3 separate regions of the Homo sapiens genome follow, and regions 2 and 3 are each linked to region 1. The links come from fine-mapping of genetic effects on gene expression. A gene starts in region 1. Each other region holds a variant in brackets. All regions are shown on one strand. Distances are between the middles of the regions.

The links.
Region 2: its variant is fine-mapped to the expression of POLR3C in whole blood (TOPMed, PIP 0.97).
Region 3: its variant is fine-mapped to the expression of POLR3C in whole blood (TOPMed, PIP above 0.99).

Annotation. Positions count from the first base shown.
Region 1 is chr1:145,819,517-145,830,099 of GRCh38, forward strand. It overlaps POLR3C (RNA polymerase III subunit C), which reads left to right and starts at 4,684. Exons shown (of 15, transcript NM_006468.8): 1 at 4,684-4,853; 2 at 6,241-6,407; 3 at 6,938-7,193; 4 at 7,304-7,489; 5 at 9,233-9,321. The coding sequence starts at 6,261. It overlaps RNF115 (ring finger protein 115), which reads right to left and starts at 4,579. Exons shown (of 9, transcript NM_014455.4): 1 at 4,256-4,579. The coding sequence starts at 4,357. RefSeq lists enhancers at 4,545-4,944, 9,084-9,143.
Region 2 is chr1:145,716,253-145,726,835 of GRCh38, forward strand. It overlaps CD160 (CD160 molecule), which reads left to right and starts at 3,247. Exons shown (of 6, transcript NM_007053.4): 1 at 3,247-3,307; 2 at 8,549-8,654. The variant C/T (reference allele first, on the strand shown) is at 6,177.
Region 3 is chr1:145,843,474-145,854,056 of GRCh38, forward strand. NUDT17 (nudix hydrolase 17) reads left to right here and starts at 2,157. Exons shown (of 8, transcript NM_001012758.3): 1 at 2,157-2,359; 2 at 2,540-2,723; 3 at 2,960-2,985; 4 at 3,125-3,217; 5 at 3,777-3,875; 6 at 4,110-4,246; 7 at 4,639-4,791; 8 at 4,904-5,481. The coding sequence starts at 2,168. The coding sequence ends at 5,006. It overlaps PIAS3 (protein inhibitor of activated STAT 3), which reads right to left. Exons shown (of 14, transcript NM_006099.3): 8 at 10,340-10,413; 9 at 10,031-10,191; 10 at 7,547-7,680; 11 at 7,298-7,466; 12 at 6,980-7,113; 13 at 6,759-6,796; 14 at 5,049-6,239. The coding sequence ends at 5,973. It overlaps MIR6736 (microRNA 6736), which reads right to left and starts at 7,172; the gene lies at 7,114-7,172. POLR3C (RNA polymerase III subunit C) reads left to right here. Exons shown (of 15, transcript NM_006468.8): 15 at 1-929. RefSeq lists enhancers at 1,231-1,360, 2,141-2,510, 2,561-2,820, 6,208-7,407. The variant A/C (reference allele first, on the strand shown) is at 5,762.

The DNA.
Region 1 (10,583 bases):
CAAACCCCACCAGACACGAAGAAGAGCTTGTACCAATCCTACTGAAATTATTCCAAAAAATCGAGGAGGGACTCTTCCCTAACCCATTCCATGAGGCCAGCAGCATTCTGATACCAAAACCTGGCAAAGACACAATGAAAAAAGAAAACTCCGGGCCAATATCCCTAATGAACACAGACACAAAAATTCTAAATAAAATACTAACAAACTGAACCAGCAGCACATTAAAAAGCTAATGCAGGCCAGTGTGGTGGCTCACACCTGTAATCTCAGCACTTTGGGGGGCCAAGGCAGGCAGATCACTTGAGGTCAGGATTTCAAAGCCAACCCGGCCAACACGGGGAAACCCCATCTCTACCAAAAATACAAAAATTAGCCAGGTCTAGTGGTGCAAACCTGTAATCCCAGGTATCTGGGAGGCTGAGGCACGAGAATCGCTTGAACCCAGGAGGCAGAGGTTGCAGTGAGCTGAGCTCGTTCCACTGCACTCCAGCCTGGGCTAAAGAGCAAGACTCCATCTCAAAAAAATAAATAAATAAAAATTAAAAGCTAATCTACCACAATCAAGTAGTCTTTACTCCTGGGATGCAAGGTTAGTTCAACATAGGCAAATCAATAAATGTGATTCATCACATAAACAGAATTAAAAACAAATACCACATATCAGGCCAGCCGCAATAGCTCATGCCTGTAACCCCAGCACTTTGGGAGGCTGAGGCAGGCAGATTGCTTAAGCCCAGAAATTTGAGACCAGCCGGGGCAACATGGCAAAATCCCATCTCTACAAAAAAGAAAAAAAAATTAGCCAGGCATGGTGGAACACACCTATCTACTACTACTCAGGAGGATATAGTGGGAGGACACATTGAGCCCACAAATTCAAGAACAGCCTGGGCAACAAGACAGAATAAATTCTGTCTCTATTTAAAAAGAAAAAAAGAGGCCGGGTGCAGTGGCTCACACCTGTAATCCCACCACTTTGGGAGGCCAAGGTGGGCATATCACAAGGTCGAGATGGAGACCATCCTGGCCAACATGGTGAAACCCCGTCTCTACTAAAAATACAAAAATTAGCTGGGCATGGTGGCACGTGCCTGTAGTCCCCACTACTTGGGAGGCCGAGGCAGGAGAACTGCTTGAACCCAGGAGGTGGAGGTTGTAGTGAACCGAGATCGCACCACTGCACTCCAGCCTGGTGACAGAGCGAGACTCAGTCTCAAAAAAAGAAAAAGGGAATATACTGTATATTTGAAAATTGCTAAGACAGATTTTAAGTGTTCTCACCACGCAAAAATAAGTATGTGAGGTAATGCATGTTAAATAGCTTGATTTAACCATTCAGTGTATACATATATCAAATCATGCTGAACACTATAAAAAATATAGTATACAACTTTTAGTTGTGAAAAAAACATGATTTATTAAATATTTCTCCCTTCTTCATCAACTCCCTCTTCCTTTTGCTACCTCACAGTCTTTGGAATTCTCAATCTGAAATGTACCCATCCCTCAAAACTCAATTTAAATCCCACTGGCCACACCAATGCTATGAAATTCCCCTCTCTGAATCCTAAAGCACATATCCTCATTCCCTTTATGCTGTTACTTTTTCTATGTTTGCCTTGTCTTTCCCCAAAAGCTGTAAGATCCTTAAGGGCAGGAGCCACATATCACTCCCTATCACCTCCAGGACACTCAGCAGAGAACCTTGGATATATTTAGGAAGAATCCGGTTATACTCAATTGTGTTAGGCCTCAATTTACAAATCAGATATGACAAATAATATATCACACCAAAAAGATCAAGAAACTTCTCCAGGCATTAACTAAGGCTTAGAAAAACACCTATTCAGCTTTTCAAATTATCCCTTTGAAGTAAGGACTTAAAGGTGAGAAGAAAAGATATAATCAATTGGGGAAGTTTAGACTGTCTTCTCACTCTTTTTTTTTTTTTTTTTTTTTTTTTGAGACAGGGTCTGGCTCTATTGCCCAGGCTGGAGTGCAATGGTGCGATCTCAGCTCACTGCAACCTCTGCTTCCTGGGGTCAGGCAATCCTCCTACCTCAGCCTCCTGAATAGCTGGGACTACAGGTGCATGCCACCACACACACGGCAAATTTTTTTATTTTTTGGTAGAGACGGGGTTTCTCCATGTTGCCCAGGCTAGTCTCGAACTCCTGAGCTCAAGCGATCTGCCTGCCTTGGACTCCCAAAGTATTGGGATTACAGGCCTGAGCCACCACGCCTGGCCAACTTCTCACTCTTAAAGGCAAAATAGTGAACAGCAACTTAAAGATCAAAAAAGCTAAGGATGGAATATTCAACAAGGCATCACATTCAACAACACACCACTGGTCACACACATACTGGCTGAATTCCAGACTCCCTCTCTATGGTAGAAGAGTTCTGCAGGCTCTGATGTTGGCTGGAAAAAAACTAGACACCTGCTCTTCCCAGCACTGAAATATGGCCAAAAAAAAAAACATAAACACACAGCAAAATCAGCAAACAAAGCTAAGTAGCATTTAGGCGGGGAGCAGTGGCTCACGCCTGTAATCCCAGCACTCTGGGAGCCCGAGTCGGGTGGATCACTTGAGGTCAAGAGTTCGAGACCAGCCTGGCCAACATGGTGAAACTGCATCTCTACTAAAAACACAAAAATTAGCCAGGGTGCGGTGGTCGTGCACCTATAGTCCCAGCTACCCGGAGGCCGAGGCAGGAGACTCTCTTGAACCCGGCAGGTGGAGGTTGCAGTCAGCCGAAATCATGCTCCTGGGTGATAGACAGAGGCTGTCTCAAAAAAAAAAAAAGAAAAAAGAAAAACAGCTAAGTAGCATTTAGATGAAACTATGACTCTGAAGTAGGGGGTGCGGCAAGTAGAGAGGAAAGAATGTATCATAATGCCTTAAACAAAACTTTTGAGTGAGAGAAGACTATAAAACACCCTTTAAGCACTTATTCACTGGACTCCATTTGTGTTTCTAAGAAATAAGATATACAGACTCACTTCAGAAGGTTTTCTCCTACACTGTATCTGAGACACCATAAATAGAAACATACATTATGTTGCCACTCTATCACAAGACTGAACCTGGACACTTGTAAGGAAAGGAACAACCATAAAGACAGTTGGCCAAGGACAGGATTGACATTCACTCTGGGGGAGCTCCTCGTAGTAGCTACAACCCAACCCAAAACAGTTTCTGGGTTTGTGATGCTGGTGCTGGCTAGTATGCTGCATAAATGTTGTTTGTTTTTGTAGAGAGGGGTCTCACTCTGTTGCCCAGGCTGGTCTCAAACTCCTGGCCTCAAGCAATCCTCCTGCCTCGTCCTCCCAAAGCACTGGGATTACAGACCTAAGCCACCGCGCCTGACCTACAAAAGTGTTTTCTTCCCAACCACAGCACTGCCTCTCAAGGGGCTAACACTCTGGCAGAAACTCGTGAAAACCAATTTCACGTCAGAGGAAGCATCCCCAACATTCTGTCCCGGCTCTTTTTCTTAGGTGAAGAAAGGGACAGGGCGGGGGGCGGAACAATGATATTAAAGACACTGGCAGCATGACAACCAAAATAAACGAAGTTGAAACAGTACGTCCTGCCTTCTTCCTAAAGCCATTTCCTTCAACAGTGATAGGAGTGCAGACCGTCTGCAAGTCATTAGTACGCTGCTGTCTTCACTGTCACAAGGACCCTGGAAACCACTGAAGAGCAAAATCCCCCTTTTCGCCCCACAGATACCTTCCAACCCCCTTTCTGTGCTTCCTTCCCTAGAAAAAACCGAAGAGTGACAATCCTCAGCAATCCGCTATTTCGCTTCACTGACAAGGGAGGTGGCGGGGGCGGTGGGGGGTGAAAAGTGGAAAAGAACACAGAGGAAGGTGAGAAGACACAGTGGAAGAAGTGTGGGGGGAGGTCATCGTAGGAAAAAGACCAGGTATAAAAGAATGCAAGAAAATTGAGGGGAGAGTTATCAGAGGGAAACTTGCTAAGAAAAAAAAAAATTAAGGACACGGGAGGTAAAGAGGTGAGGTCAGGTGGAGCAGCCCAGGATGAATTAAGAGGTGGGCAGGAGGTACGGGGCCGAGGCCGTGATGCCCAGGGTTTAGGGCCGGCGGCTTAGAAGTGGGCAGCAGGTATTCGGCAGACCGATGTCGGGCGAGTCAATGATGTGCAGAAAGCTCCAGACCCAGTTCCGGGAAATCGGGGCCAGGAATCTATGAGGTTCCCAAGTATAGAGAACACAGCGCTCTTACCGGTAGTTTGGGGCTGACCTCGCCCTTGCAAAAGTGGCAGAAAAACCGGTGGGCGGCTACAGCGGCGCCCGAGTCCGCCCCGGCCGCCGAAGCCTCCGCCATTTTTGCCCTCCGCCGCGGCCGTCCGAGAGGGCAGCCGGCCCGTCCCTCGCCAGGCCGCTACCTCCCGAGCTGCAGTCGTCGCCGCCGCCGCCGCCTCGGTGCGGCCCACCGCTTCAGAGCCCGCGTCGGTCACGTGAGTTGGCCAGGCCCAGAAACGCGGCGGCGCCAACAGCTACCCTGCGGCCCGCCTCCCAGCACCAAAGAGGCGCAGGAAGGAGAGACAAACGGCCCGCCCGCCGGCTCCACAAACAGCCCCTCGCTGGTCCTCCAGTCTTCCAGCGAGAAGAAAGAAAGAGCGTCCCCGGAAGCCGCCGAAACTCTGGGGTAGAGTGGCACGCGCTTTTTGCTTTTCCGCGTCTTCTTCGGTGGCGATCCGCGTCCTAGAAAGGGCGGTGGGCTCCACCTCGGCCTAGAAGGCCAGCGGGAGCCGTAGGAAGCCGTCGCGGGAAGCTCAGCCGAATTGGAGTTGGAGCCCCCGGATTGCGCTGACCCTGAGGTTAGTGGAAAATGCTGTCTGAACGTGGCGGCACTGACTGGACCAAGAGACCACGTCCGAAACGGGAACCTGTGTAAAGGAAGTGTAGAGCTAGGAGCCAAGCGCCTTGGAAGCCCTTTCCGAGGATGGCAAAGGATCTGGGAATGCTTCTCCAAAGATATGTGGATGGACGAAATAGGTCTCTGGTGATACTGAGGCGGGGTGGGGACGGGGAGGCAAAGACTTGGCTTCTTAGGAATTGGAAGAAATAAGTAAACAATGTTTGGTAGCAATTTGTAATAAGGAAGTAATCATAAAATTAACTACGTCCGTTTCTGATTGTGTCAACTTTGTCAAGGAGTAGAAGTTTAAGAATTGAATACTGTCCTGCAAACAACGTAACCTCATCTCCTGTTTGACACACCCTGTTGAGAAGCAGTCCTTTACCTCCTAAATTTCTTTTTCGAAATTATCATTTCCTTTATGGACTGAGAATAACACTGCCTGTTCACTCCCACCGAGCTGTGAACAGTGACCTTAATTCTTCCAAGCAGTGAAGTGTAGAAACTAAGGTCTGTGACAGACCGCAAAATCATCTCCCAATCTTTAAGGAAAATCAGAATCACGCATAATCCCATAGAGATAAATTTGATGCATAGTCTTTTCCTATGCATACATTTTTCCTTTTTTTTTACAATAATTGAATTTTTATATTTTTTCAGCTTGCTTCTGTCACTTAATATATTATGAGTAATTTTTTTTGTTTTTTTTTGTTTTGGAGACAGAATCTCGCACTGTCGCCCGGGTTGGAGTGCAGTGGCGCGATCTCGGCTCACTGCAACCTCTGCCTCCCGGCTTCAAGCGATTCTCCTGTCTCAGCCTCCCTAGTAGCTGGGATTACAGGCACCCGCCACCACGCCCAGCTAATTTTTTTGTGTGTTTTTAGTAGAGAAGGGGTTTCACTATATTGGCCAGGCTGGTCTCAAACTCCTGACCTCATGATACGCCCACCTCGGTCTCCCAAAGTGCTAGGATTACAGGCCTGAGCCACCGCGCCAGCCTATTATGAATAATTTTCTACATGAATACGCATCGTACTAAATAACTTTAAATGTTGGTGTAGTATGCCATTGTATGGGTATGGCATCATTTATTGTTAGACGTTAGATTGTTTCCACTAAGTCGGTATTATAAAGAGAACTAATGACTTCATTATTATTAGCTTTTTCTTTCTTTGGACACAATATCCAAAAAGAAATTGTTGTTTCAAAGATATGCAAGATTTTTAAGGCTTTTTGATATGTATTGTCAAATTGCCCTCCAGAAAGAATACATGAATTTACACTCAGCAGCTCTGCTTCCAGCGTGAAAGACTTTCTATTGTACCATTTTGGTGTTTTTTCCCTAGCTCTCAGACTCCCCAGTACAATGACTCAAGCAGAAATTAAGCTCTGTTCTTTGTTGCTGCAAGAGCATTTTGGAGAGATTGTAGAAAAAATTGGAGTCCATCTGATAAGAACCGGCAGCCAGCCACTAAGAGTAATTGCCCATGACACAGGAACATCACTGGATCAGGTATGTCTAAATGACATTCATTTTCTCTCATTTCTTTCACTAATTTATTTCACCCACCTTTGAATATTGTTCTTCTCACCCCAGAAAAGGAAAAATGAAGAAAGCCTGCCCTTGGAGCAGAACAATGTTATTTCGGGGAGAAAAGGATGAGACTTAGACATCAACATTTTGTTTCTCAAAGTGTTCCTAGTTCATCACAGCTTTTAGGCAAATCTTTGCTCTTCCCATGCCGTACCTCATTTATTCACAATAAGTCTATTAATCTCAGTACTGCCTTTAAGGAATGAGAATGATGAAAGTAAATTGTGTTTTGAGAGATAAGGATCAGAGGAAATATAGCAAGGAATCTTCCTGATTTATTGTATTGATGTGTGATTCTTATTAGCTCCTCCAGTGGAGAGAGGAAATAAGTGCAGAAATTATCTAGCCATTTTCTGATGCTTACTAAGCTGTTGGACAAAAAATTGCCAGCAGTAATGAGCTATATCTTCAGGTCTTTCCTCTCTTTCTTCTCTTTATGTTCCATTTAGGTGAAGAAAGCCCTGTGTGTCCTCGTCCAACATAACCTGGTGAGTTATCAAGTGCACAAACGTGGTGTGGTGGAGTATGAAGCCCAGTGCAGCCGGGTATTGCGAATGCTTAGATATCCCCGGTACATCTATACTACCAAAACTCTGTACAGTGACACTGGAGAGCTGATTGTTGAGGAGCTTCTGTTGAACGGCAAACTGACAATGTCAGCTGTTGTGAAGAAAGTGGCAGACCGGCTCACAGAGACCATGGAGGGTCAGTATGGTATCCATAGCTGTTAACAAAAGCATAGATCAGCTGGCTATGGGAGTGAACCCTGAGCTATCTTAGGCCATCTCATCTGCCTTTTTCCTCCTGTTATACAGATGGCAAGACCATGGACTATGCTGAAGTATCAAACACATTTGTGCGACTGGCAGACACACACTTTGTACAACGCTGCCCTTCGGTACCTACCACTGAGAATTCAGACCCTGGGCCACCACCACCTGCCCCCACACTTGTCATTAATGAAAAGGACATGTACCTGGTTCCTAAACTCAGCTTGATAGGTAAGGAATTTTAACCCCTGGAACTGTGACTTGCCTTAATTGTGGATTCTTCTTGATTGTCAAGTGTATGAAATGTGATTGTATTTACCAAGTATTTGCTATGTGCCAGACATCGTGGTGTATAACAATGAAAAAATCATGGTCTCTGCCATGGGGCTTTAGTATAGGAGACATACATTAATCGGAAAATCACATCGATATATCATTAAACGGTGATAAGTACTATGAAGGAAATATTCCTATGAAGGAACTGTCATAGTATTATGAGACATGCATTAATCAGAAAATCACATCAGTATATAATTAAACTGTAATAAGTGCCATGAAGGAAAAGTATGAGGTGTTATGAAAATATATAATGGAGACTTTGGGAGACTGAGGCAGGCGAATTGCATGAGGCCAGGAGTTCGAGACCAGCCTGGGCAACATGTTGAAACCCCATCTCTACTAAAATTATAAAAATTAGCCAGGTAGCCGGGCATGGTGGTTCACGCCTGTAATCCCAGCACTTTGGGAGGCCAAGGTGGGCGGATCACGAGGTCAGGAGATCGAGACCATCCTGGCTAATACCGGGAAACCCCGTCTATACTAAAAATACAAAAAATTAGCTGGGTGTGGTGGCGGGCATCTGTAGTCCCAGCTACTTGGGAGGCTGAGGCAGGAAAATAGCATGAACCCGGGAAGCGGAGGTTGCAGTGAGCCGAGATCGTGCCACTGCACTCCAGCCTGGGCAACAGAGCCAGACTCCGTCTCAAAAAAAAAAAAAAAAAAAAATAGCCAGGTATGGTGGCATACGCCTGTAATCCCAGCTACTCGGGAGGCTGGGGCAGGAGAATTGCTTGAACCCAGGAGACAGCGATTGCAGTGAGCCAAGATTGCACCACTGTACTCCAGCCTGGGTGACAGAGTGAGACTCTGTCTCGGGAAAAAAAAAAGAAAAGAAAATATATAACGAGAGACGGGATTCATCTGGGAGTTTAGGCCTCATGTTTCTTTGAGAAGGTGGCATTTGAGCTAAGATTTGAAGTAGAAGCTAACAGTGAGGTAACAGGAAAAGCATTTTTGGCAGAGGGAATAGTATGTAGTAAAAAAATAGCATTTGAGGAAATGAAAGAATGTCAGTATAGCTAAAGCATTGTAAGCAAAGCAAGAGAGGCATGAGGTAAGGTTAGAGACATAGCTAGGCAGGGGTCTGATCTCAGAAGCTAATCAGGATCAACCTGCTTAGTACTTGGATGGGAGACAGGCAGGGGCTGAATCAAGTAAGACCTTATAGAGCATCTGTTCTTTATGCTAAGAGCAAAGGAAGACCACTGAAGGATTTTTAAGGAAATGACATGATCTAATTTGCACTTTCAAAAGATTTTTTGTCTACAGAAAGGATGGGAGAATGGGGCAAAGGTAAATGTTGACAGACTGGTGGAAAATGAAAGAGAGAGGGTGAAGGAAACAAGTACTAAGAGTGACATCTGTGTGTCTGACTTGCACATGTGGGAGGATGATATCACTGGCCATGAAAGAGAGCATTGGAGGAGAAAGACTATAAGACTCTTTTTGAACATGTTGAGTTTCAGATTATTTCATCAGTTACTTGAGTTTCTTATAGCTCTTCAGCCCCCTAAGCAACTCTGATCTAGAGGCAGCTACAGATGTCTTTGGAATGAAAGACACCTGCTCTCATGTTTGGTCATTTCCTGTCATCATATGAGATATAGTCTAAGTGTTTAATTGTTTGTTTGGCAGGGAAAGGTAAAAGGAGGAGATCATCTGATGAAGATGCTGCTGGGGAGCCCAAGGCCAAGAGACCAAAATATACTACAGATAACAAGGAGGTAATGGGGCTTCTTGATTAGAAGTCCTCACCCTGAAGCAGGCCAGAAAGAGCACTCAGATAACAAGCCCCAAGAGAGCTTAAAGCTTCCTGAGCTAAGAAGCAGTAGGATTATGAACCTCATTAAATATTAGGAATAGACTAACAAAGAATGAACCATTACTGTCTCCCTTCTGAGCCTTAACTTAATTCTTTCATTGAACAGAGGTAACAGCTTATGTAAAAAGGGGCCTAGAAAAAGTTTAGGTTGCTCAATATGGCGAGAACCTAAAGACCTACAGGGGCCAGTGATGAAAAATGGGTCTAAAAACTATACATAGGCCTGAACTCATATTCAAATGCCTTCTTAGCGTACCTATAAAGATGTCAGTAAGCATCTCAAATTTAGTGTGGCCAAAACAGAATAATTGATTCCTCCTCCCAAATATCTTGCTCCCTCATAAACTTCCTCATCTTAGTAAAAGACACTACCACGTAGGCCAGCCGCCTAGGACACCACCATTTCTGCTTAAGCCAAAATCCTTGGAACCCTCTAATCTCACAGTAAAACATATCAGCCCAGTTTCCAAAATTACCTCAAATCCAACCATTTCTCATCTTTTCACTGCCATCTCTCAACTCTTTGCAAACGCTTTCGTTAATGGTCTCCCTAGCTGCATTCTTACCTACTTAGTAGCCAAAATGACTTTCTAAGTTGTTCAAAACAAAACAACACATCCACTGATTAGACTCCTTTAATAGCTTTCCTTTACTTTTAGAAGAAATCCAAGGTACGGGCTAGGAAGCCTTACGTGATCTAGGTCTTCGTATGATCTGCTGGAGACAGGGCTCTTCAACCTCACCTCTGCCCCGTCTCCATCTTACTCACTGTGTTCCCTCTACTGACTTTATCTCTTAAACATGTCAAACTCTTTCTGGTCTTTAGACTTTGGCTCCGGCTTCAAATGTTTGTCCCCAGATCTTCATGTAGTGGTCTCTGTTTTTATCATTTCTATCTTAAATGCTGTTTTCATAGACTTCAAGCACCATTGCCCACTCCTACACTAGTTCCTACCACATTTCTCATTTCATATACTTCACAGCATTTATATTTATAACTGGAATTATTTATTATTTGTGTACATGTTTGTCTAAGAGGTTTGGGCTTTATCCTGAAGGCAAAGGAGAGCCATTGATGGATTTTAAGCAGGGAAATGAAGTGACTGGATTTATATTTTAGAAAGATTATTATAGCACAGCAGTTCCTAACTTGTTCTACTCCAT
Region 2 (10,583 bases), 100 kb before region 1:
GCAGTCTCTTCTGCTTCCAAAACCCCATAATTCTACAGAAGTAAGATGGAAATACAATTCAATGTCCACTCAGTTTTTCTTTGTCTTAATGTCGAGCACTTACTATTAGTATCTTGAAAACAATCTATCAGTTGCTAAATTGTGTAACTGGACTCATACACCTTAGACATTGAAAGGCCCACAGGATACATATTTGGGAGGCTGTGGATGACCAGGAGGCAGCCTATATTTCAGCCACCTCATTGCTTCACTGACTTCCAAACCAGCCCCATATGTCCCTGCTCCTTGCTGGTTCATACTGTTCCTCTACCCCTGCCTTTTGAAATCCTGCCTTCTTTCAAAGCTCAATTTAAATGTCACATTGTCCACACAGAGTGCCTAACACTGTCTGCGCCCACAGGGCAGTCTCCTTTTCTTCCTCCCAACCTCCCCTGCTTCCTGGGTTCTCTCTCACTTCTGGGGTACTTAGAGCTCTTGGTGCATTCTGCTTCTGCTTCATCTCACGGGAATGCAGGCCTCTCTCAGCAGTGTGCTCGCCTTGACAGCAGGCCCCATTCAGTCATCGTCAACCCCGCAGGGCCTGGCACACAATAACCTTGTGAGAAGCGACCAAAAGCAACATTTGCAGAAAACTGTGCATGCAACCGTTTGCAGGATGGACAGACACTACATGGCTGGTGAAAAGGAAGCGCGCTGCGATTCACTTTTGAGCCCTGAGGTCTTTGCAGAACTTTGAGGTTTTTTGCAATAACCAGTATGAATACATGTGTGTCAGCTAGTACTTAAGTGGCCCCAACCTCACTCACCCACAACTCTGGTTGCCTTTAACTTCTCTTCATGTTGCTAATAATCACTGTTTTACAGCTCCTGGATGATAAGGAATGCTGAGTGCTCTCAGAGCCAACCTTTGAAAGGTTCTCATAGACCCAAGGAGGGAGAAGTCTCCATTTTAGAGAGCAGAGAGGTCATCTGTTTGAACACTATCATAGAGACAGCAAATAAGGATACTGGGAGAGCAGAGACCAGGCCCAGTTTAGCAGTTTATGCCAGTGGGACCCAGTATCCTGTGGGCTGTGGTGGACTGGTCCTGTGACCAGGATGATGGTGAGACACTCCTCTTCCCAACATGGGTTCCCAACCCCCAGGCTCCCAGAATGGACTCATTCTGCAGTGAAAGCTAACACTTTGATGGAGTGAAGAAGTATTTCTTTTCTTTTTTCTTTTTTTTTTTTTTTTAGAGACACAGTCTCACTCTGGCATCCAGGCTGGAGTGCAGTGGCGCAATCACGGTTCACTGCAAGCTCCGCCTCCCGGGGGGTCACACCATTCTCCTGCCTCAGCCTCCCCAGTAGCTGGGACTACAGGCACCCACCACCAGGCCCAACTAATTTTTGTATTTTTAGTAGAGACAGGTTTCACTGTGTTAGCCAGGATGGTCTCAATCTCCTGACCTCGTGATCCACCTGCCTCGGCCTCCCAAAGTGCTGGGATTACAGGTGTGAGCCACTGCGCCTGGCTTGGAGTGAAGAAATATTTCTAATATCTGTCTCATTTGACGATGGCTTCAGTGGAGCCATCTGGGAGTTCTCAAACCCCAGAGCACCCTACTGTTTTTAGGACCACAGAGTACTACAATAACAGGAATAAGAAGGAAAAGAGAGTCTCTAGACTAGTTATGAAAAATTTTCCCCCACCCTCCCTCCACCCTTGAATTCCTGGGTAGCCTGGCACTGGGTGGCAATCATGACAGGTGTTCCTCCAGAACCGTGGGGCTTCCTGGTGTGCTGTGCCCTTTGGCACAGGGCCTGGCCCAGCCTTGCAGGACTTAGAGCCCAATGCTTCTAATTCTCAGACTAATGTTCCTGCCATCTAAGGGCACAACCCTAGAATTTAGGAACAATTGTAATCTCCCAAGCCATCACTGACCAAGGAAGAACAGAACAGAATAGAAATGGATGGGAAGCTGGGAGTGGTGGTTCAGGCCTGTAATCCCAGCACTTTGGGAGGCCAAGGCCAGAGGATTGTTTGAGCCCAGGAGTTCAAGAGCAGGCGGGGCAGCATAGGGAGACCTCATCCATACAAATCATTTTTAAAATTATCAACCGAGCGTGGTGGCTCACGCCTGTAATCCCAGCACTTTGGGAGGCCAAGGCAGGCAGATCACTTGAGGTCAGGAGTTTGAGACCAGCCTGGCCAACATGATGAAACTGTCTCTACTAAAAATACAAGAATTAGTCCAGCATGGTGGCAGGCTCTCGTAATCCCAGCTACTCAGAAGGTTGAGGCAGGAGCATCACTTGAGCCCAGGAGGCAGAGGTTACAGTGAGCTGAGATCACGCCACTGTACTCCAGCCTGTGTGACACAGCGAAACTCCATCTCTAAATAAATAAATAAATAAATAAATAAATAAATAAATAAATAATAAATAAATAAAAAGTTATCCAGGTGTGGTGGCGTACACCTGTGGTCCTAGCTGCTTGAGGGGCTGAGGTGGGAAGATCACTCGACCCCAGGAGGTCAAGGTTGCAGTGAGCCATGATTGCCCCACTGCACTCCAGCCTTGGTGACAGAGCAAGACCCTGTCTCAAAAAAAAAAAAAAAAAAAGGAAAGAAAGAAAAAAGAAAAAGAAAAAAAATGGGTGGGTGGGAAGATAAGGTCAGTCATTCATCCTCCCCCCACCACATCAGGACCATTTTGGTGCCCCCACTCGTTGCCTCCCCTGCTCACCACCACCCTCACCCAAGCCTTCTTGACAGCTCCCTGACCTTCTTCCCTTTCAGCCTGGAGCAGCTGTGTTCTCTGTCCTACTTCTAACCAAAACCTACTCTCAGGAGAAGACTTGGTACCTTTCTTTATACTTGAGAGGACATTCTGTCCTTTTATCTTCTAGTTATTCTATCATCAGTCCTTTCCTTATTATGAATTAGCAAATACAAAATCTTTGTTCCCCAGGGTAAAGAAAAGAATTTTAAGAAGTGGTTTTTCTTAGCCCCCTCAGCACCCTAGTCTATTTCTAACACCAAAAAGACAAAACAAGGGAGAGGAAAGGAGAAGGAGATGGAGGACCAGTTGCAGGAGAGAAAGGAGAAAAAAATCCACAGTGGGGGTGGCGGAAGATCTATGACTTCTAACAACCCATTCTGTGGTTTTCAAAGAGCGAATATAATAACAGCTATGAAAGTGTGAGCAATGACGAAACTGGAGAGATAGGGTTTTAACAAGATGCAAGGACAATCTGAGGACTGAGAGCCATTTCAACGTGAGCCCCCAGTCTGAGAACAAGAAAGAAGAACTTCTGTCTCGAGGTAAAAAGGCCTGCTGGGGACCTGGGGTCCAGGTGAAGGGATGGGATGGTTGACAGAACTGCTCAGGTGAGGACAGGCTTCTCATGAGGTCCCTGAGAAACTTGCCTTTTGGAGGGAAATGTCCTCTGCCCTCTGGAGCCTGGGGAGAAGGTTATTTCTGCCCGCCAGACCAGCATGCTCGCTTTTCTTCCATGGGCATTCAGGAATCCTGGCCCCATTCTGACATTCCTCAAATGGAGGAATTCCTCAAATTACCAGAGGAAAGTTACCAAAGTTTAGATCTGCTGGAGCTCTTCAAGGATTGGCCTGAGACAAGCCGGGAGGTGCCACGGGGCTTGGAGCTGGCCCTGTGAGGCACCTCCGGGGGAAGTTCATGTCCTAGGTGGTTCACGTCATGGACCTCTTGGAGGTCCGTGAATAGATTTATTCATGGGATTTGTGAATTGGGGGGAAAAATACATCTTTATTTTCACTAATCTTTAATTGAAAGTCAGCACTTGCTTCAGTTATGAATGTAGACAATGAACCACAATAGAATTTGCCATCAATAGAAAACACAAATATTTTCAAATCTCATTACAGTTTTTATAGATTTCTCCAAATGTCCTTAACGCTCAGCACTACTACAGAATTACAACAGTTATTAGGCTGATGTCAAATCTAAAGAAGCATGTGTACTGCTCTACCACACATTCTTCTAATGTTTTGACAACTGTCTTGTCATAATTTGTTCCCTTTATTATCCCATGTATCTTATTAATTTTTAAATGTTGTTCTGAGAAGGGACTCCATATGCCTTCCCAGACCACCAAAGAGGTCCATGGCGCCTTTATGTCAGGCACCTGCTTTGGTGTGTTGAGCAGGAAGCCTGAGATCTCAGACAAGAGCTTCAAGGGCCCCCCAGCCCAAACCTCTGTCTACTAACAAGTCTGGTTCTACTTTAAGGCAGTTGGGGTTGTGGAGATTGAAAAAGAAGCCCCTTCACAGCTGCAAATGAGATCTTTCTGGGCATCTTTTTCAGTGTCGTGGGAGATCTGTATACAGAGGTATTTGTGGAGCTCAGAGCTGACCTTCCAGCTCCTCTGAGAGGTTAGATCCGGGCTCCGGTGGCAGAGGAAATGGAGACTCTTCCTTGCCCTCTTGTCCCCACCCTCCCCAGAAAACCTCTGGCAAAGCTTTATGTGTCATCTAACCGTCACCACATTCCTATGAGGTAGTTTTAAACACAAGAGGAATGTGAGGCTGAGTGAGGTCCAGCAATGTGCTGGTCACACAAAGCTTGGATTTGAACCCAGGAGTCCACAAGACTCCAGGACCGCCTCCGAAGGTGCGGGAGGGAAGAGTTTCCCGCCGTCTGTGAGCTGTCGCCTGAGAGAGGCACCGAGCCCTGGGGCCACCAGCGCAGCTCAGGAGCCCCGGGGACCATCAAAGATGAGGATGCCAACTCCACGGGCACCCTCCCCCCTGCCCGCGCTGGGGCTCACAACGTTTTAAGAGGGGAGACCCGCCCCTGGCGTGTAGTGGGCCCGGAAAATTCCCAGACTTCTCACGACCACCCGCTCTCCCCTCTGTTGAGGGCCAGGTGCCGCTCTAGTACATGCTGCGTCCCCAGGACCCACCAGGCCCAACTTTGCACCCCCTCATCTCCCCTCCTAGTTTAGACTTTCCCTGGCTAGCCCCCATGCTCGCTGGATGGCCCATGGCTGGAGTGACGCGGGCCAACGCGGGGCAGGTAGGGGGTCACTCGGCTTTGGCTGAAAGGCAGCGCCCTCTAGCGGCCAGAGTGCGAAATCAGCGCCGCCGGCTCCGCGCTGCCCCGCCTGCATCACAACAGGGTGCTCCCCTCCCGGGCACCAAGGTCACTTCCCAGAGCATCCTTGCCCAGTGACCTCGCTGCCCCCCAGCGCTGGTGAGGGGCCCACAACAGACTTACATGCTCTTCTTCAACTCGGCCCTAGGCACCGCGAAGTCTGGCCACTCCAGCGGAGTGACCAGCTGCATCAGCCCCTCCCGCCTGTCCTCTCTCTCCTTGGAAGCGGTCCCTACCCTGCGCCCCTCCCATCCCGCTGCACCAGTCCCTTAGGAAACACGCCTAGAGAAGGGACACGACCTTGTCAACATTCCACAGCTACCTAGTGCGGAGCCAGGACTGGAAGCCAGATCTCCTCAGCCCATTCCCCACCTTAATTCACCCACCGTATTCTTTAGTCACCAGCTCCCGAGAGCCCACAAACAACTATGAAGGCCTAACTTCATTGCCATCTTGCAGCCTTTCCACATCCCTCATCCAGAATTTCTCCTGTGCTGCCCCTTGACACTTTATGACCTTATTACTTAGTACAGTCGTTCTTGTGTTAACAGCTGTTCGTGAATGGATGAGCGGCTGTGAGGAGAGGGACAAAGGGGACTCCAAGAGAAAGACTCTCATAACTTGGGTTAGAGTCCTGCTCCCCAACTTAGGAGCTGTGATTTTAAGCAAGTCACAAGTCCCCTCCAAGCCTCTATATGCTTCGTACAAATAATAAATTTTAGAAAATAATAATGGCTTAGTGTTTTATAAGGACTAAACACAGTCTTGCAGGTAGATGTGCCTGGAACACTGTCCATTGATTCCAATATAAGAAAGCATAAAACTAATCATAGCTATCATTTATTGAGCCCTTACTCTCTGCCAGGCACTGTGCTAAGTAATTTACATAGGTGACCTCATTTGACCCTCACAACCCAAGGAAGAGAATATTTTGTCACCATTTTATAGGTCATTAAGAGATTAAGAAACTTGCCCAATATTACACAGATAGTTAAGTTTCAAAGCCAGATCTGAAACATCCTGGTCTGACTCTAGAGACCATTTAACCACTAAAACGTC[C/T]GCCTCTGCTGTGTTAGTGATCTCTCTGTGCCCCATGGTGTCTGACACATTATAGATGCTCCGTGTTTCTGAAATATGTCTATTTATTAAAGGCTGAGCATAGCGCCTGGCCCAGGAGCCTAAGAAACTTGACCGAGTCATGCAACTATTAAGTTTTTTTTGTTTTTATTTTTGTTTTTTCGAGACAGAATCTTGCTCTGTCGCCCAGGCTGGAGTGCAGTAGCGCGATCTCAGCTCACTGCAAGCTCCGCCTCTCGGGCTCACGCCATTCTCCTGCCTCAGCCTCCCGAGTAGCTGGGACTACAGGCGCCCGCCACCACGCCCGGCTAATTTTTTGTATTTTTTTTAGTAGAGATGGGGTTTCACCGTGTTAGCCAGGATGGTCTCGATCTCCTGACCTCGTGATCTGCCCACCTCGGCCTCCCAAAGTGCTGGGATTACAGGCGTGAGACACCGCGCCCGGCGCCACTATTAAGTTTTAGGACCAGGATTTGAACACAAACACTCTGGCTCTAGAGTCTACGCTTTTTAACCATAATTCTGGGCTGAATGAATAATTGCAATCCTTCTTTGTCTTCCTCTTTGAATAAAATGATTTGTCATTTTATTCATTTATCCTCTTTGTCACTTAATATTCCATGTTTCAAGAGTCACCAGGACATTCTGGTGTAGCATGAAGGTATGATAACACAGGAGAAGGAACAAGGAGAGGTCAAGGCTAGGAAAGGACATTGGGGCCATACCATGAGCTGCTGCTGGGATGTTTTATTAGGATTGTGACAAATGTATAGATAAGTACAGAAGAATTTAACAATCGTCTCTACTTAGATTTTCTTTTATGTTCCTTAATAGTACTGTATAGTTTGTATCCTATAGGTCCTATTCGGAATGTTGTTACATTTTTCTGGACATTTGATGGGTTTTTTGGTTGCTATAATGAATGGAACTTTTCCTTCTACCATATTTTCTGACTAATAATTATATCCAGGAAAATTTTTAATCTTATGTATTAATAAGTACCTTATTAAATTGTATGTATATACACTAATTTAGTTTATTGTTTTATACAAACTATAATTACATAACATTCTATTCTGTGGATCTGCAATAATTTATTCAACCATTCTCACCAGTGGGTCTTCACCTGTTTCCTTTTTTTATGGGGGCAGGAAGGCGACAAAGTTTTGCTCTGTTGCCCAGGCTGGAGTGCAGTGGCGTGATCTTGGCTCACTGCAATCTCTGCCTCCCAGGTTCAAGCAATTATCCTGCCTCAGCCTCCTGAGTAGGTGGGATCACAGGCACCTGCTACAACACCCAGCTAATTTTTGCATTTTTAGTAGAGCCAGGGTTTCACCATGTGGGCCAGGCTGGTCTCGAACTCCTGACCTCAGGTGATCCGCACGCCTCCCAAAGTGCTGGGATTACAGGTGTGAGCCACCACACCTGGCCTTCACCTGTTTCTATTTTTTTGGTATTATAAAAAATGCTGCAGTGAATATCCTTGTACATCTATACTAGCACACTCATGCTTTTATTTCTGTAAGCTATAGCCAAAGGGACAGGGTATGTGCATTTGAAATGTTAATATATAATGAGTATTCCCCCAAAGCTCCGTAACAATGTATAGTTCTACCTAGAGTGAATGATTGCACATATTTCTTCTTACCCTTACCAAAATTTGATTTATCTTTTAAATTTTTGTTCACTTAACAGGTGGTAATTCTGAAATTCTGAACTCTGAATTTTTAATTTGTACTTCCCTGAATACTTGTAAAACTGAAAAACTTTTTATTGCATTTCGTCTTTTGTGAACTGCCTATTCAGATACTCTTTTATTGTTTCTAATAATTCTCAATTAAGTTTCTTGGGTTTTCTAGATGTAAGTTATATCACATATAAATAGTAATAAATTTGCCTTAAGATTTCCAATATTTATACCCTTTGCTTTATTTTCTTGTCTAAATATAATGGCAAACACTTTCAGAACAATGTGAAATAACAGAAATAATAGGAAGCATCTCTGCCTTGCTCCTAATATTAATAGAAATTATCCCATATTTTACCATTAAATATGATGCTGCAATTTTATCTGAGATATACATTTCTCCATTATATTGAATAGTATTCATCCATTACCATTTTACTTAGGATTTTAGTGGGAATTAATGTAAGATGTTATCAGAAGGTAATATTGACTTTCTTTTTTATCCAGTAGTATGTTAATTAATAGATTTCCTAATATTAAATCATCCAAGAATTTCTAAAAATGAAACCTTATTCCATTTGTCATGGTGTATTATATTTTTAATATCTTGTATGATTGGTTAATTTGTGTGTGTGTGTAATTTTTGATTTTGGTTTTCTTGAGACAGGGTCTCACTGTCAACCAGGCCAGAGTGCAGTGAAGATCATACCTCACTACATCCGTGAACTCCCGGGCTCCTCCCACCTAAGTCTCTTGAGTAGCTGGGACTTCAGGTACGCACCACCACACGTGGCTAATTTTTGTATTTTTTGTAAAGACATGGTCTCACTTTGCTGCCCAGGCTGGTCTCAAACTCCTGGGCTCAAGTGATCCTCCCACCTCGGCCTCCCAAAGGCTTGGGATTACAGGCGTGAGCCACCGCAACTGGGCCTTTCAATTTTTAAAAATTTAAATATAATATTATAAAACAGAATACAGCAGCACATGAAAAGAATAACATACTAGGCCGGGCGTGGTGGTTCACGCCTGTAATCCCAGCACTTTGGGAGGCCAAGGTGGGTGGATCACAAGGTTAGGAGTTCAAGATCACCCTGGCCAAGATGGTGAAACCCCGTCTCTACTAAAAATACAAAAATTAGCCGAGCGCAGTGGCAGGCGCCTGTAATCCCAGATACTCGGCAGGCGCCTGTAATCCCAGATACTCGGCAGGCTGAGGCAGGAGAATCGCTTGAACCCAGGAGGTGGAAGTTGCAGTAAGCCAAGATCGTGCCACTGCACTCCAGCCTGGGCGACAGAGTGAGACTCTGTCTCAAAAGAAAATAACAACATACTATGACCAAATGGCTTCAGTTTTTGTTTGTTTGTCTGGGACTGCAAAGATGTATCAATTTTAGGAAATCTATTAATGTAGATCGCCATCTTAATATATCTTAAAGAAAAATAATATCATTTTAGTTGATATTTAAAGGCAATTAATAAAACATTCACATCCATCCTTGACATTTTAAAACTCTTAATAAAATAGAAATAAATGTATATTCCTTAACATAATAAAATACATCTCATTCTCAAAGCTACTATAATACTTAATAAGGAAACATTTAAGCATCCCCCATTAAACTTAGAAAAAAGACAGAGATTCATTATTACCATTATTATTTAATATTTTTCTGGAGATATTAACCAACACAATTAGAAGAAAGAAATCAGAGATATAAAATAGAAAAGGAAGTAATTATCATTATGTACACATAATATGATTGCATAACTGGAAAATCCAAGAGAATCAACTGAAAAATGATAGAATTAAGGGAGGGGAGCTGGGTATGAAATTAATATCTAGTAAAACAAATAGCCTTTCATATATGAACAATAATGAAAAATTAAAAGATATAATGAATGATATAAAGAGACTGAAAAAATAAGTTAAAAGATACAACGAGTGGAAACAACAGATGCTGGAGAAGATGTGGAGAAATAGGAATGCTTTTACACTGTTGATGGGAGTGTAAATTAGTTCAACCACTGTGGAAGACAGTGTGGGGATTCCTCAAGGATCTAGAACTAGAAATACCATTTGACCCAGCAATCTCATTACTGGGCATATACCCAAAGGATTATAAATCATTCTACGATAAAGATGCACAAGTATGTTTATTGTGGTACTATTCACAATAGCAAAGCCTGGGAACCAACCCAAATGTCCATCAATGATAGACTGGATTAAGAAAATGTGGCACATATACACCATGGAATACTATGCAGCCATAAAAAAGGATGAGTTCATGTCCTTTGCAGGGACATAGATGAAGCTGGAAACCATCATTCTAAGCAAACTGTCACAAGGACAGGAAACCAAACACTGCATGTTCTCGCTCATAAGTAGGAGTTGAACAATGAGAACACATGAACCCAGGGTGGGGAACATCACACACCGATGACGTTCCACGGGTGGGGGCCCGGGGGAGGGATAGCATTAGGAGAAATACCTAATGTAAATGACAAGTTGATGGGTGCAGCAAACCAACATGAAACATGTACAACTATGTAACAAACCTGCACATTGTGCACATGTACCCTAGAACTTAAAGTATATTAAAAAAAAGATATAATGGGTAAAAGATGACATTTTCAATAGTGAAAAAATATGAATTACTCAAGAAACAAACTTAGCTAAGAAATGGACGAGGACTTTATGAAGA
Region 3 (10,583 bases), 24 kb after region 1:
ATACAAGGATAGATAAATAAGACACCATCTCTGCCCTCAAGCCAGTCACCATCATTTACTAAGCACCTGTTTTGTGCTAAGTACTGGGGTAAGCCTTGGGGATATAAAGATTAATAAATTTTGAGCATACAGTCTAGTAGGAGGAGACAAATAAGTACATAAGTACCAGGAAGTATTAGGGGTGCTACAGTAGAAGAGTAAACACTATGTACAGAGAGGCCAGAAAGGGAAAAGGGTCAGGCAGGGAAGGGAACACAGAGAGTGACAATGTATAGTTTGAAAGATGAGGATGCTTTATTTGCAAACTATCTTAACAAGGGATTCGTAACCAGAATATATAAGGAGCTCAAACAATAGCAAAAAGAACAATCCAACTTAAAAATGGCCAAAAGATCTTAATAGGTAGTTTTCGAAAGAAGATACACAAATGGCCGACAGATACATCAAAAAATGTTCAACATCACTAATCAGAGAAATGGAAATCAAAATCAATGAGATAACATCTCACCCCAATTCATTACTTTTATCAAGAAGAAAGAATGAATGCTAGTGAGGATGTGGAAAAAGGAGAGCCCTGCCTGGTACACTGTTGGGAATGTAAATTGGTACAGCCACTGTGGAAGACTACAGAGGTTCCTCAAAAAACTAAAAACAGAACTATGCTCCAGCAGTTCCACTACTGGGTATATATATATCTCCAAAAGGAAAGAAATCAATGTATCAAAAAGATACCTGCACTCCCATGTTTATTGCAGCAGTATTCACGATAGCCAAAACATGGAATCAACCTAAGTGCCCATCAATAGATGAAAGGCTAAAGAAAATGTATTATTCAGCCATAAGAATGAATGAAATCCTGTCATTGGCAGCAACATGGATGGAATTGGAGGTCATTATGTTAAGTAAAATAAACCAAGCACAGAAACAAATATTGCATGTTCTGTCTCACATAGGAGCTAAAAAAGTGGATCTCAAGAAAATAAAGAATAGATTGGTAGTTACCAGAGGCTAGGAAGGATGGGGAGGATGAAGAGAGGTTGATTAGTGGGCACAGATAATACAGTTTGAAGAAGTAAGACTGGTGTTGGATAGATCAGGGTGGCATAGTTATTAATTTACTGTACATTTCAAAACAGCTAGAAGATAATTTTGATGGTGCCTAAATCCTGTAATCCCAACACACTGGGAGGATCAGTTGAAGCCAGGAGTTCAAGAACAGCCTGGGCAACAGTGAGATTTCATCGTTACAAAAAAATTTAAAAATTAGCCAGGTGTGGGTAGTGCACATCTGTAATCACAGCTACTCAGGAGGCTGAGACGGGAGAAGCGCTTGAACCAGGGAGGTGGAGGTTGCAGTGAGCTGAGATGGCGCCACTGCACTCCAGCCTGGGTGACAGAGCGAGACTCCGTCTCAAAAAAAAAAAAAGGCCGCGCGTGGTGGTGGGCGCCCTGTAATCCCAGCTACTACTTCGGAAGCTAAAGCACGAGAATCGCTTCAACCTGGGAGATGGAGGTTGCAGTGAGCTGGGATCACACCAGTGCACTCCTGTCTGGGCTGTAGAGTGAGACTCTCAAAACAAAACATCACTCTGGCAGCACTGTAGAGAATGAACTGGTAGGGGCAAGACTATTTGGAGACTTGCAATAATATTTCAGGCAAAATACGAGGAAGGCTTAAACTAGGGCAATGAATGAAGGCTGGAGAGAACATGGGTTTGAGGAAGTTTAAGGAGATAGCATCTGCATACTTGGTTGCCATTTGAGTGAAGTGAAAGGAGAAGTGGTATCGAAAATGTTATTTGGTGTGTTTCGCTTGGAGATAATTAATTCGAAGTGATGCCTGCTGTAACAGGTGTGCATAGTGCTGTAGAGGATGCTTACAGTTCAGCTTAGGGCTGGTTGGAAGTAACATGTGGGTCCTGAAGTCATTCGGTCTGGGGGTCATTGTCCTAAACAGAGAAGATAGGAAGGAATAGGAGCTGAGCATTTAGAGGTATTCTTCTTTGTGGTTTAATATTATACCCATGGGTCATCCTCAAAAGATGTGCCCTTATTTCCCCGGGGACTTTCGGAAACCCCGCTACGACCCCGCGGAACGTTCCGAGGGGAAGCTTCTCTAGGCCACCAGAGGGCGCCAGGCGGGCCGCAGCGACTCCAGAGTCGCGTTATGGCCGAGGTGCGGGTGCAGCTGCTCCTGTCCCGGCGTCCGGAGTCGGTGAGCTTCGCACGGAGTGTGTGTGGCCTCCTGGGAGCCGGACCAGGGCTCGGGACGTGGCCCATTCACTGCAGCTTGAAGCGAGGACGGCTTGTCCTCTCGAGCAGGCCCTTCCCAGGCGCCTCCGCTAGGCTTCCGCTCCAGGTCGGCAGAAGGGGGCCCCAGAGCGGGGGCAGTGAAGGGCCAAAGATGGGGACTGAAATCGGGTGGGAACTGGCGGCGAGGACCCCGCCCCCAACGCGCGGTGTAGCCCCATTTTTGGAAGTCACGCCCACCCAGTGCCGCCCTTCTGAAGCCTTAACCCAGCTGGCTTCCTTCTGCCAGCGACCCCCTTTCTGCCCTTTTGCGGCCCTGGAGGAGCGGCCCAGGGTCCCTGGGGCTGAGCTGCCCACAGATCGAGGTGTGGACCTGGGTGTGGCCGTCATTCTGCAGTCCAGCGACAAGACTGTCTTGCTAACCCGAAGGGCACGCACCCTGAGCGTTTCCCCCAACCTCTGGGTACCCCCGGGTGAGTATTCTGGGGACAAGGCCCCAAGTACAGAGAAGAAATTTGCCCTTTCCCCGCAACAATGTTTTTCCCAGTCTCAGAAGGATAAAGTGGGCCCCAAAATGTGGCATGTTCATAGTCACAAGGGACTGCAACTCCCTCTGTGTCCACTGGAGGGGAGAGGAGTGTCAACAGTGAGTGGGGGCTCCCTGGCCAAGACCACCACCATTCACCTACTGGCCCCACTGTTGTTGCAGGTGGGCACGTGGAACTTGAGGAGGAGGTAACCAGTCAGCTGATCCAACCTGAGCCAAGAGACCCATGCCTGGGACCATCTTGGGTGTGGGCTGAGGGAGAGGCAAGCAAAAGGACTTGGAAGAGTCAGGCACTGGCCCCTCTGATGTGTCTTCTCTGACTCCCAGCTGCTGGACGGAGGGCTTCGAGAACTTTGGGAGGAGAGTGGACTACACCTGCCCCAGGGCCAGTTCTCTTGGGTCCCTCTGGGTTTATGGGAGGTGAGACAAGTAGCTGGGAGAAGCTCCTCCATAGATCAGCCCCTACCTGCCTTGGCTACAAGGGAAACAATAGCACATAAGTGGGCTGGAATCCCCAAATCCATAACCCTCACCCATGTCCCTGCTGTGTCATCTGTACCATCCACGCCCTCAGCTTTTGGCCACCATTTTGTTTCACCCTAAAGCTGTATTAACAAAGTCTCAAAAAGTGACACAAAGGGCCGGGTGCGGTGGCTCACGCCTGTAATCCCAACACTTTGGGAGGCTGAGGTGGGCGGATCACCTGAGGTCAGAAGTTTGAGACCAGCCTGGACAACATGGCGAAACCCCGTCTCTACTAAAAATACAAAAATTTTAGCTGGGCGTGGCGGCAGGCGCCTGTAATCCCAGCTACTCTGGAGGCTGAGGCTGGAGAATTGCTTGAACCCAGGAGGCAGAGGTTGCAGTGAGCCAAGATCACGCCATTGCATGCCAGCCTGGGCGACAAGAGCGAAACTCCATCTTAAAAAAAAAAAAAAAGTGACGGAAAGTTCTCACTTTTGCTGTTTTCTTTTCCTAGTCTGCCTACCCTCCTAGGCTGAGCTGGGGTTTACCCAAATACCATCACATTGTTCTGTATCTACTCGTGATCTCCCAGGAATCACAGCAGCAGTTGCAGGTAGGGCTGGCAGTGAGGGAAGGAAACAGGGCTCAGGGGAGCCCAAGCAACCTGGTTCTGACTGTGATTAGGAGCTGGGCGGGGGTGGCGGGGGTAGTCAGAGATAACGAAGAATATGCAATGCCCTTTCCCCTTGCTCCTGCCTTTCTCCATGAAACCTGCGGGTAGGTTTTGATCACGAACAGGCAGCCCAGGGAGAGGCAATGACTGAGGGGTCACCATGTCTGACCCCAGGCCCGGATCCAACCAAACCCAAATGAGGTGAGCGCCCTTATGTGGCTGACACCAGATGTAGCTGCTGCAGTGGCTGCCGCAGAGGATGGGACAGAGACACCCGGACTTCTCCCCCAGGACCTACCACCCTCTGTCCTGTAAGTAAGAGCTTCTCCCTCAGCCTCTAATACACCAACATATTCATGTTGAGAAGTTCAGCGTCTATCCTGTCCTCAGGATGGAATTTTGTGTTGTGGGGGAGATTTAAGGAGAGTGGGTCAGCTGATAATTAAGAAGGTACATGAAATCTAAGACACTGACCATCAAACCCCAAAGATTCTTGCTCTAACTGGCTAGCATTGAAGGTCTAAGTGTCAGTTCTAACACAGGGGCAAGTCATTTAACCCTCCTTGAACCTGTTTCCTTTCTGCAAATGAGGTCAACACCCACCCACCTCCTGTGGTAGTTGGGAGGATTCGGGGACCTAACATATATGTAAGTTCTTTGTAAGCTACAAGGCACAGCCCCAACAGGAGTTGTCACCATGCAGTGCAGTGGAACTAGAGGAGGATGGAAGAGCCCGACCTCTGGTCCTGCACATGTCCACCCTCCTGCGGATGATCCCAACCATGGCAGAGGACAAAGAGAGAGTCAGCACTGGAACCAAGTTTGCCCTCAAGCTCTGGCTGCAACATCTGGGCAGGTAAAAGTGAAAAAGGACTGGAGAGCTCCACAGTACTGGGCTGGAATGGTCTAGTTTTTACAGGCACGGGGGAAAGCAGGAAAGGACAACCTCTCTTGGAATTCCTCCACAGAACACCCCCACCGTGTAAAAGTGCAGCTTACCTGGACCCAGGGCCAGCAAAGGAAGAATGGAACATGGACCCTCTTCCCCCAAACCAGGGGTCTGGAAAGTGAAGTGTAAAATCCCCTCCCTAGCCCATCTCCATGACACTCACAGAACATTCACAACCTTTATTATGGGTGAGAGCTTCACTACAACTTTAGAAATAAAAAGTAAAATTACAACATAGGTCCTAGGCCTTGGCGAGCCTGAAAAAGAAGATTGGGAAGGAGGGCACAGGGTCCTTCCACCTCCCTGGAAAGGTGCAGAATGAGCCAGGCCTAACTACAGGGCCATGAGCCTCTAGAAGCTTAGGGGGGAATAAGAAACACTGTGAACTTAGATATATAAATAGAGAGAGACCCAAGCAATAGGCCGGGCCTGACTCCCAGACCCCTGCAGATCATGGCTAAGGCCTTACATCCTCCTCTGTCATACTGGAGTAGGAGGCAGGGGAAGTCATCTTTGGAGTATTTTGGTTTTTCTTATTTATGTACAAAAAAGTCCACATCCACAATCCAAAATAAAGTTCTCTGTCCATCTCTGAAACTGCCTGTCTCAGTTTTTCCACCTGTCTGTTTGGCCGAAGGGAATGGAATAGACATGAAGAGACAATGGATGTGAAGAAGAAATAGAGCCATGGGTTTGGGTAATAAGAAGAGAGAGCATTTGGGGTTCAAGAGAGGTGCCCCTTCCCCAAGAGGCTCTAGACATAGTCAAGGCTGAGGGTTCAGCCCTTCTCCTAGCTCACATACCATCCCATTTGCCTCCCACTGCCTAGGTTAACATACCCAAAGGAATGTGCCACCATCTAAAGAACATTTCCAGA[A/C]ACAGACCCCAGTGTCCTTAAAAAGAGGTTAAATATTAACCCTTTGGGTGCTGGCCTTGTCAGGCAGAGATGAGGCCAAAAGTAGGCATCTGTGAAGGTCTGTCTGGCCCTTGGCCAGAGCCCCCAGAGGGATCAGAGTAGCTGGGGTTGGGACTCCACAGCATACTTGCTCAGTGTTGGGGGACAGCGAAGTTTCCATAATCCAGGGAACTCAGTCCAGGGAAATGATGTCTGACCGACAGCCAGTCAAAGAGGGACCTGAGGGCAGGGGTCCTCCATGCCCCTCCCTCAAGGCCCCCCCAGGGGCCACAATGCTGCTGACACGGCCAGGAGGGGGCGCCGGAGTGGCGCTGCAGTGGGAGCTCCCCAGCGTGGGGGCCAGTGGGCCCAGAAAGTGAGAAGGGGTCCCTCGGTACTGGAAGAAGTGGCCAAGGGCATCCTGTTCATCTAGTGAGGTGATGACAGAGGGGCCATAGTGCTAGGAAGAATCAAGGGCATAGTTTAAGATCTCAATCCCGACTTCCCCACCTCCCAGTCACTCATCTCAGAAATGCCGTATGAGAGCAATCAACCCCTGTGGATCCGAAGGTATTCTCTTGAGAAGCAGGAGAGCCTCTCCCTCTTTCCCCTACTTCCCTACACCCTTCCCCTTTCCCTGCCTTGAGAGAGCTCCTCCAACTTGTTAGGTTCTTGGCTTTGTGGGCGTCTGAAATGTGTGGAATGTCCGGTTAGAGCAGGCATGGTGCTCTAAGTGCACACGGGGGTAGGGGTGAGTAGGCCAGGGCAGAAAAGTAACAGGGGATCTAGGAAGGAGGCCTAAGTAGGAATCTCAGGAACTACCAGTGGGGCTGAGGAGATAATAAGATACCTACACCCCACTGCCCTCACGGGAAAGCAGATTTACATCCCCAGAGATCATAAGAGAGGGAGGGGCCCCATCAGTGTCTAGAAAGGAAGCTTCAGAGATCTGAGACCTTCTGAAGAAAGAACCACTTACCTGACTCTCTGTCTGAAGAAATGAAAATAAATCTAAACCTGGCAGGAAAAGAAAAATCAAAATTAACCTCCTATCTGACCCCTTTACCACCAAAAGACAAAGCACTGTGGACTGTGGCCCCTTGCAGGAGAAGCAGGAGGCTTTGAGAAGGAACAGGGGTTCTGATGTAGCTCTGGGGAGGGTGTGGCAGTGCAGGGTCCATCTTATGACCCATGTCATACCTTGGATGTCGGCTCCCAGTGGGAAGGCAGGTGGGTACTCATGTAGTGGGAGACTGGACAGGAAATCCCCACCCAACGTGCCCATAGCAGGGCTCCTTAGCACCGAGGATGGCTGGTGGCCAGATGTCAGGACTCTGTGGGTAGAGAGGAGCTGAGGCAGCCAGCAAACCACAGATGCCCTCACCCAGCTCAGGTCCCCAGGTTCCCTCTCTGTCCCCTCCACATTTCTCTTGCCCCAGGCTTTGTCCAATGATCAGAAAGCAATCCTGACTTCTTCCCCTGTCCGTTTTGCTGTAGACTCAGCCTATTTTCTCATACCCTTTGCTTCCAGGTAGGGCCGGGATGGCAGCTGAGGTGACAGAACAGTGCTTCTTGGTAGGGGGCAGATCCTCCTCATCTGATGAGCTTTCTATTGTCAAGTCAATAACTTCGACCTTCTTCTTATTCTCTGATGGATCTCCCCCCTGGACTGGGCTGTACTGGAGGCCTGTGGGTATTAAGAAGACTACGTCTCAGAGAAGAGGCCATCCAAGATTTAGCTTAGCTGGGGAACAGGGGGTCACTCACCATCCAGCCCATACCCTGGCGGGGGGCAAACCTCAGATGCCTCCTTCTTGGGTTTCATTGGGCACCAGGATCCATCTTCCATGAATTGGATCTCATCACAATCTGAACAGGAACTAAGAATCTCCATAAATAAACTGGGGGAAGAGAGAGATGAAAATTCACGGGGCTGGGAGATGAGCAGAACAGTAGCCAGAGTTCTGTAACTCACCTTCCTGTATCTCAGTTTCCTCATCTGTAAAATAAGAACATTATCCATCCTACTGGACCGCTCTGAGTTGTTGGAATCAAATAACACAAGGTATGTAAAAGAGCTTTGCAAAGTAAGTAATAGGTTTTAAAATAAATACAATCTGAGGCTGGGTGCAGTGGCTCACGCCTTTAATCCCAGCACTTTGGGAGGTACAGGCAGGTGAATCACTTGAGGCTGGGAGTTCAAGACCAGCCTGGCCAACATGGTGAAACCTCATCTCTACTAAAAATACAAAAATTAGCCAGGTGTGGTGGCACATGCCTATAATCCCAGCTACTTAGGAGGCTGAGGCACGAGAATCGCTTGAACCCAGGAGGCAGAGGTTGCAGTGAGCCTAGACCACACCACTGTTCTCCACCCTGGGAAACAGAGCAAGGCTCTGCCTCAAAAAAAAAAAAAAAAAAAAAGCCGGCGTGGTGGCTCACGCCTATAATCACACTTTCAGAGACTGAGGTGGGTGGATCACCTGAGGTCAGGAGTTCGAGACCAGCCTGGCCAACATGGTGAAACCCCATCTCTACCAAAAATACAAAATTAGCCGGATGTGGCGGCACATGCCTGTAATCCCAGCTACTCAGGAGGCTGAGGCAGGAGAATTGCTTGAACCCAGGAGGCAGAGGTTGCATGAGCTGAGATCACGAGACTGTGCCATACCACTCCAGCCTGGGTGACAGAGTGAAACACCGTCTCAAAAAAAAAAAAAAAAAAAATCTGAGCACTTACGTGTAGTATAAGGAACAAAAGGAGCAGAGACACAGAAGTCCATAAACCATCTCCAAAAGGCACTGGGTCTTTGGCTTTCTAAACACTTGTGTAAAAATAAATAAATAAAGGCACTAGGGGCCAGGCATGGTAGCTCATGCCTGCAATCCTAGCACTTTGGGAGGCCAAGGTGGGAGGATCACTTGAGGCCAGGAGGTCGAGGCTGCAGTGAGCTATGATTGTGCTACTATACTCCAGTCTGGGCAACAGAACGAGACCCTGTCTCAAAAACAAACAAACAAACAAAAAGTGGGGGAGCACTGGGAACAGGAACCATAATGTAGATTCCAAAAAGAGGTTAAGACTAGCAAGATCAAAAGATTAGAACATCCAGGCCCTGAAAAGAACCTTATTGCAATGCTCAGTGGGAAGTCAGGTAGTTGTTATAGGTGATATATTATGACAGTTCAGTACACTGGCTCTGCCACTTAACAATATAACCTTGAGCAAGGCTCAATCTCTCTCGGCCTCAGTTTCCTCATGTGTAATGATACTACCTATCTCATAGGGTTTTTTTTTTTCTTTTTTTTTTTCTGGGTGAGTGTCACTAGCCAATCATAGGATTATTTCTTTTTTTGAGACAGGGTCTCAATCTGTTGCCCAGGCTGGGGTGCAGTAATGCAATCATAGCTCACTGCAGCCTCAAACTCCTGGGTTCAAGCCATCCTCCTGCCTCAGCCTCCTGAGCAGCTAAGACTACAGTCATGAGCTATTATAACATGCCTGGCTAATTTTTTTAATTTTTTATAGAGAGAGGGTCTACTATGTTGCCCAGGCTGGTCTCAAACTCCTAGCCTCAAATGATCTTCCCATCTCAGCCTTCCAGTGTTGGAATTACAGGTAGGAGCCGAGTCCATAGGGTTATTGTGAGGATTCAATGAGATAACTCATGCAAAGTGCTCAGCAAGATGCCTTGTATATACTAAGTCCTTAATGTTGCCCTCCCCCTCCACACACATGCACATACACACACACACACACAGACTGGTAAAAGGGATAGATAAGGTGAGAATTGCAGTTCATGTGAGGGGAAGTAAGCCATATGAATTAAAAACCCTGAAGGAGGTGGTGGCTAAAAGAAAAAAGAAATATTATAGGCTGGGCATGTTGTCTCATGCCTGTAATCCCAGCACTTTAGGAGGCTGAAGTGGGCAGATCACCTGAGGTCAGGAGTTCAAGACCAGCCTGGCCAACATGGTGAAACCCAGTCTTTACTAAAAATACAAAAATTAGCCAGGCATGGTGGTGGGTGCCTGTAATCCCAGCTACTCAGGAGGCTGAGGCAGGAGTATCGCCTGAACCCGGGAGGTGGAGGTTGCAGTGAGCCAAGATTGTGCCACTGCACTCCAGCCTGGGGAACAGAGTAAGATTCCATCTCAAAAAAAAAAAAAAGAAAAGAAAAAGAAAAAGAAATAACCAAGAAAAGAGGTTCTAGTGGATGTCCTAGGTAAGAGGAAGCAAAATGGCCCTACCCATCAATGATAAGAGATTCATAGGGAGCCTTCTTGTCACACACAGGACATGTCCATGTAGGCTTCTTCTCATTCATCTGTAGATAAAGGGCAGCATCGAAGCTCTGCAGGTGGGCGCAGGTGAGGGCACGACAAGGGACAGTCAGGCGCATCTTCCCTAGCTGAGGAGAAGCAAGTTCTCTTGTCAGAGGCCCTACTCTGATTTCATCCCAGAAAACTTCACGCCAGTATCCCTAGGAACCCTCATCAAAGTCCACAGGCTAAACCCAACTCCCTTCCCACCCTGTTCCCTTCTCCCCTTTTACCCACCGGGCACATGAGTGACACCCGGAGACTTGTAGTGGCCACCTCACTGTCAGGGTCAGCAGTCAATTTCTCCTTGACTGAAACAAAAGTGAGGCCAGAGCCATGGGGTCAGCAAGGCTGGAGGAAGCCCAGGAGTTGGTAAGGCCAGGAACAGATGGCTCTGGCTGAGAGGCTGCTGGGTGGAGCGTCTTTGGGGGCCAGTGGGACGTCACATGGAAGTGGTCTGGGATATGGATGATGAAGGCTG